2 linked regions of the Homo sapiens genome follow. The protein of the gene in region 2 purifies or fractionates together with the protein of the main gene of each other region. This does not show direct contact. Each region holds a gene or a part of one and is shown on either strand. Other genes may lie near its edges.

What was found.
Region 1: the proteins of SVOP (region 2) and CNNM1 purify together in Homo sapiens (affinity purification with mass spectrometry; one large-scale study listed by BioGRID and IntAct). This does not show direct contact.

What each region holds. Positions count from the first base shown.
Region 1 is NC_000010.11:99,360,227-99,363,881, reverse strand, and holds part of CNNM1 (metal transporter CNNM1), read right to left. Parts: intron 3,048-3,655; coding exon 2,907-3,047; intron 1,656-2,906; coding exon 1,486-1,655; intron 1-1,485. UniProt on the Homo sapiens protein: Probable metal transporter.
Region 2 is NC_000012.12:109,014,441-109,018,095, forward strand, and holds part of SVOP (synaptic vesicle 2-related protein), read right to left. Parts: intron 1-3,655.

The DNA.
Region 1 (3,655 bases), on a different chromosome or scaffold from region 2:
TCCTAGCTACTCAGGAGACTGAGGCAGGAGAATCACTTGAACCAGGGAGGCAGAGGTTGCAGTGAGCTGAGATCGGGCCACTGCACTCCAGCCTGGGTGACAGAGCGAGACTCTGTCTCAAAAAAAAAAAAAAAAAAAAAAGATAAAATCTAATTCTGTGTGAAGCTTGTTTAATTCATTGCCAATAATAGTGATAGCTGATATGTAATGCATAGCATGCATGGACATGACACTGTATTATGTGCACTGCATAGATTCTCATGCAATTAGCCCCACAACCCCATGAAGCCTATGCCATTTTTATCCCTGATTTACAGGGAACTCAATTTTGAGGCTCAGAGATTGAATAACTTGGTCCAGGTTAGTTAGGAAATGGCAACAATGGAATTTTAAAGCCATATTTTTCAAATTTCTGAGCGTACACTCTTGCTACTACATTTTATTCCATGTTTTATTTGAAAACCGTTAAGTTTATATTCAGCATAAGACATGAAACTATGTGATCATTACATTATACAAACAATGTAACAGGATTCTTGTTGATTTCCAACAGTGAAGCACATGACTACATTTTTTGGAGAAGAGAGGTCATTTTGTTCAGACCATTTGGAAAGATATATGTGAGGCAAGTTACAGTGACAGAGCAGAGAGGCTGGAAGTGGACAGTAACAAAGAGACCATTTCTAAGTTCATGTGAGCTTAATCAAGATTTTAAAATACAATCAGTGTATTTAGGATTCACAACATTATGTTGGGAAGGGACAGGGAATCAGTGACAGAGCTAATGGTGAAGCCAGACAGGGCACCAGCAGTGTTACAAGCTGCAATCATGTCAGACACTTATTTAAGACAGGCCTATTCAGGTATCCAGAGCAGAAGGTGATCATACTTATGTGAGCACTGGGGAGATGTTGCACTTCTTTGAACAGGTCATTTTCCCCCTTCCTGGTCCTCTGAAGGGGGAGAAGATTTCAGGAACTGCAAAGGCTGAAATGCAGCTGAGAGAATGAATGTGTCCCATGTACCTCCAGAGAGCAGAGCAAGGACCAGTATGGAAGTCACAGATGGTGAGATTTCCACTTGACAGAGAGAAGGGTTTAAAGAAGAGTTGTCTAAAGTTTAGGAGGCAGTGGGCAGTTTCATTTCAGGGGATGTTCAAGCAGAGATGAGGAGGTATTATAGCTTCCGCAGAGCAGCAGTTCTGGAAGTTTAGATGCAGAACCCCTCTATTGGAGAGGTATTCAACCCACCCCAAACATCGCTGAGTTGTCAAACTAAATGTCAAAGATCCCAGCACTCCCAGGACACCAGTCTTCCATGTCTAGGCCCCTCCTGTGGGTCATGAAGAAATGTCCACCCAGCTGGCCTTGTTGCTGAGGCAGCCAGCCAAGTCTTGGAACTTGGTGCTGACGGAGGCATGGCCATTTCTTCACCCTGGAGATGCCCTCCTCTGGCTCTCAGAGGTTCCCTGACTTTCCTACTCACCTGTAGAAGCAGCACAAAGTAGTCCACAGGGCGGTTGCGCTGGTAGAGGTAGTGTTCCGGGGCCTTCTTGTTCTTCTCATCAAACTTCAGCTCCTGGATCACGTTGGGATGTTTCAGGAGCCGGAGCAGGATCTTCTCCGAAAGGTACAGAGACTTAAAGGGCTCCACTTCTAGAGGAGAGTGAGTGGGAAGGGAGGAATCAGCATCAGCTGTGTCCCACCCATTCCAGCAGTGGCAGCTGGGAGGAGTCAGAGTGGGCACAACTGGGACCCCTGTGCCTGTACCTGGGCATCAGGTTGGCAGGGCTTCTGCAGTTCCTCCGGAGTGGAGGATCCTAATCCCAAGTGTGCATCTCAGGGCCTTACCCACGTCCTCTGGAGATGTGTGTCCCTGCACTGGCATCTCAGGAGAAACAGGTCTCCATTTGGAAATGTCTGTTTCATTATTAATTTTCTTTGATTTTATTTAAAATTGGACATGGACAACTAAGCCACATAAACAACAAAGACTTTAATGCTATAATTGAATGAAATGCAGATAATTTAATCTGGCTTATTTGTATGACATATATCTGCTGAATGAAATGAAATCCCATGTTACTAAAGACAGGCAATTATTTAAATAATAAGTTGTCAATAATGTGAGGCATCATTGCATCATATTTATATATTACAGCTATTGCTTATATTACATATGTTAAACTTATATTACTTATATAACATAGGCTCTGGGAAGTAGTTAAAAGAAATCTGTACTCAGAACTAGAAATTCTATCTTAAAGCAGCTCCAACTTAAAATTTTCTACTCTTTAGCACCTAAAACAGTGCTAGCACTCATTACATACTCAATAAATATATGTTGGATTAATTAAATATTGAAGTTAGTGATAGATATGATCATTCTAGGTCAGCACATTAATTAGGCATGGATGGTCAGAGGGTTCAAAGACAAACTTTATCTTCTTCACAAGAAGGAGTTTATCTTTGGATTTTCTCACTTTTTTTTCTTTCTAAAGATCCCAAGATTCACAATACACTTCTGTATTTTAAAAATTCATAGCTCACAGGCTTCTGTGGCACTGCTCTAGGGCACTGCAAGTCTAACAGACAGGGAGATGGCCTCGGGCTTCAGCGAGGAAGTGAGTAGAAGAGGGAAAAGTGCAGCAATGGTTTCTTTAGCTCTTTTCTCTGGTAGAAGAGTTGAGTTATACTCATTTCTTCCTCTATGAGATCAGGCCTGGGGCTCAATACGACAGTAGGTGGCATCCATTACCCTGTCTAAGGCAACCTCCTTCCTAGAACAGTGCTTCTCAGTCCTGACAGCACACTGGAATCAGGCTGGAAGGTATTAACAACGATTGGTGCCTGGGTCCCACCCTAGAGATTCTGTTTTAGCTTCTCTGGAGTGGAGACTTGTCCTACCTGTGGCCATGAAGCGGTGTGTGGCTAGCAGAAGCTGTGGTGAGATCTTCACCCGCATCTCCGTGTCCGAAAGCTTAAACAAGGAGAAGTCATGCCGCTTCCGCTCCCGTTGCGGGACCCTCTGCTTTTTCCGATTGTCAGCTGTGGGGTCACAGAGGACAGATTACAGCTATCTCAGAATCACGTTGATCTTTGGAGGTTTTCCCAGAATCACAGGGGACAGATAGAACATTTCTGCAGTGTCAACTATGGGTGACATCACAATATCACCCAGGAAGTAGAAGGATGTTGGTGAGGGATAGACAATGGGAGACTGCCATCATTTCAGTGTTTTCCACACTTAGGGGGTGTATAGTAGAAAAAGGGGAAAGCAGGCTTGGGGTACCCAAGTCTGGGGTTCTGGGGCTGGTTCCCCTACTTACCATGTAATCTCTCTAAGCATTAGAGTTTTTATTTTAATCTGTACAAGGAGGCTAATAATATTTAATATAGCTCTCATACTCATCTTGTGCAATTAATTATGAGACTCCAACTGGAAACTACCTGTGAGAATGCTTTTACCCAAAGTCATACACACACAAGGGACCTGCATTCTTAGTATCAAGAGGGTTGCAGGGGCCCAGGGAATTTCTGACTCTGTCCCCCTCCTTTGCCCTGAACTGGCCTCACCTAGTCTCCTGCTGCTTATGTGAACCATGCTCTGAGTGGTACCTGAAGCATGCCACACAAGGAAGGAGGGCGGCCACCAC
Region 2 (3,655 bases):
CGTCAGTCCATGGGCATGGGTTTTCATGTTTGGCTATAGTGAATAATGCTGCTGTGAACATAGAAGTACGAATATCTCTTCAATACCCTGCTTCCCATTATTTTGCATCTATAACCAGAAGTGGAATTACTGGGTCACATGGCATTATTTTTATTTTTACATTTGAGGAACTGCCATACTCTTTTCCATGATGGCTACACTATTTTATATTTCACCAACAGTGTGCAAAAGTTCCAATTTCTCTACATCCTCACCAACATTTGTTATTTTCTGATTTTTTTGGTCTTTCTTTCTTTTTTGAGACAGGGTCTCATTCTATCACCCAGGCTGGAGTGTAGTGGCACATTCATAGCTCACTGCAGCCTCAAAACCCTGGGCTCAAGCAATCTTCCCTCCTCAGCCTCCTAAGTAGCTGGGACTACAGGCACACACCACCATGGCTGGCTAGTTTTTCAAAATTTTTGGTAGAGACGGGGTCTTGCTTTGTTGCCCAGGCTGGTCTCACAGCTCTTGGCTTCTAGCATTCCTCTCGCATTGGTCTCCCAAAGTGCTGAGATTATGGGCTTGAACCACCATGCCCAGCTCAGGTATTTTTTATTTTAATAGTAGCCATCCTGATGGGTATATGAGAGGGCTGCAAATTTAAAGAGAGTTATTAGGGTAAGCTTTGGTGAGAAGGTGGTATTTGAGACTTTATGAGAGTGAAGCAGGTACCTTGGAGAAGAGCTTTCTAGCGGGTGGATCCTGAGGCAGGAGCCTGGCTGGCATGGCTGAGGAACAGCAGGGAGGCAGCAGCATGAATGGGTAGGATAGTGAAAGAGATGAGGTGAGATGGGAACCATAGAAGATTTTTGAGCCAAGGAAGGACATGATCTGACTTTTAAAGAATCCCTCTGGCCACTGGGTTGAGAATGGGCTATAGGGAGGCAAGGGCAGGAGCGGGAAAACCAGCACAGACATCATTGCAATCAATCCCAGTGAGAGAGGATGGATACTTGAACCAGAGGATTGCAGCAGAAGGGGTGGGAGTCTGGGTGTTAAGTTGAAGGCAGGACCAAAGGATTTCTTGATGGACTGAAAGTGAAATGGGGCCAGGCATGGTGGCTCATGCCTGTAATCCCAGCATTTTGCGGGGCCAAGGCGGGAGGGTCACTTGGAGCCAGGTGACCAGCCTGGCCAACATGACAAAACCCCATCTCTATAAAAAATTAGCTGGGCATGGTGGTGCATGCCTGTTATCCCAGCTACAGGGGTGGCTATGATAATCGCTTGAACCTGGGAGGCAGAGGTTGCGGTGAGCTGAGATCACACCACTGCACTCCAGCCTGGGCAACAGAGCGAGACTCTGTCTCAACAAAACAAAACAAAACAAAAAAGTGAAATGGGAGGAAGAGGGGAGTCTAACTTGACTCCAAAGTTTCCGGCCAAATGGGACAAATGGAGTTGTTATCAACTGAGATGGGGGAGGCTGAAAGAGGAGCAGGTGGAGGACGGACGAAGAGTTCAAGTTCAGACATGTGCTCTCACACCACACCAGACATCTTCTTAGTGTTTTGCACAGGAGAATGTGGCTTCCAGGCGCTCCTACTACCTAATAAGTTGGAAGATCAGGGAAACGAATGCTGAGTGGAGGAAAACAATACCAGCACCACAAATCGAGACCATACTCAAAGCCAGGCACTGTGCTGAGAGCTTCCCAGCGATTATCTCTCTGATCCTTACAACAGCCCTGCAGGTATTATCACTGTTCTGACTTCACCGATAGGCACTCAGCCTTGGGGAGAAGAAGGCTTTGGCCCGAGGCCACCCAGATAGGGCCGGAGCCAGAGTTTGAACCCAGATCTGCCTGAGTCAGTTTCCACATTTTTACCTCTGCTATTGATTAAGACCGGCAGAAGTCAGGGGCAGATTTATTAAAATGGTGGACCCAAACTCAATCTTGAAAGACAGGGTTTGTAAGAAAGGAGACAGTAGATTCAGCAAATGCAGGATGATGTCCCAACTCCTTGTCATATACTACAAGACCCTGGATGGCCTACTCCCTGTTATCCTCAGCAGTTTCCCCTCAAGCCACTTGTTCATTAATGATCTTTTGGCTGATTTTGAGACACACCAAGCTTTTTTCCCAATTCAGGGCTTTTACCCATACAGTTTCTTCTTCCTGGAATGTTCTTAATCCTCTCTCTTTTTCCTGAAATCATATCTCCAGAGGATCAGGTCAAATGTCACTTCCTCAGGGAAGCCTTCCCTGATACCCACCTCCCATCTAAAACTAGTTTCCTTACCTGTACCCTGCATTAGTTCTTTTTTTTTTTTTTTTGAGACAGGATCTCACTCTGTCACTCAGGCTGGAGTGCAGTGTCATGATCATGGCTCATTGCAGCCTTGAACCCCCAGGCTCAAGCAATCCTCCTGCCTCAGCCTCCCTAGTAGTTGGGGCCACAGGCATGAGCCACCAGACCTGGCTAATTAAGAAAAAAATTTTTTTAGTAGTAACAGGTCTCAATATATTCCCCAGGCTTGCAGTAGTTCTTGATAGCACTTAAGACAATTCTCATAATTATTTGCAATGATGTGTTCAGTGTCCTCCCTCCTACCAAACCAGTGCTGTCCAATAGAACTTTCTGCAATTATGGAAATGTCCTAGACCAGGGGTCCCCAATCCCTGGGCCAAGGACCCGTAACGGTCTCTGGCCTGTTAGGAACCGGGCTGCACAGTGAGCCTTGGGTGAGTGAGCATTACCGCCCAAGCTCCACCTCCTGTCAATCAGCAGCGGCATTAGATTCTCATAGGAGCGTGAACCCTATTGTGAACTGACACACAAGGGGTCTAAGTTGCAGGCTCCTTATGAGAATCTAATGCCTGAAGATCTGAGGTGGAATGGTTTTATCCTGAAACCCCAACCCCATCCCCCTACCTAACCACCCCCATCCATGGAAAAATTGTCTTCCAAGAAACCAGTCCCTGGAGCCAAAAAAGTTGGGGACTGCTGGCCTACACGTATGCTGTCCAATATAGTAGCCACTAGCCACATGTAGCTATTGAGTATTTGAAATGTGGTTAGTATGACTGAGGGACAGATTTTTTTAAAATTTTACATTATATATATACACACACATTTTTTTTGAGACAGAGTCTCACTGTGTTGCCCAGGCTGGAGTGCAGTGGCACAATCTTTGCTCACCGCAACCTCTGCCTCCCAGGTTCAAGAGATTCTCCTGCCTCAGCCTCCCAAGTAGCTGGGATGTGCCACCATGCCTGACTAATTTTTTTTGTATTTTTAGTAGAGACAGTGTTTCACCATGTTGGTCAGGCTTGTCTCGAACTGCTGACCTCAAATGATCCACCCACCTCGGTCTCCCAAAGTGCTGGGATTATAGGCATGACCCACTGCACCTGGCCACATATTTTCTATTGTATATTATATATACATTTTATATTCTTTATTATACTATATAAATTATTTCATGTACAAAATGCATACTTTAAATTCATTTAAGTTTAAATTTAAATAGCCACATGTAGCTAGTGGCTAAATGTACTATTGGACATTGCAGCTCTAGATTGCGAGGTGCTTAAGCGCAAGAACCATTCTACCTTACTCAGCTGTAGAATCCTTTGTACCTAGGATGGTATCTAAGTAAATCAGTGAAA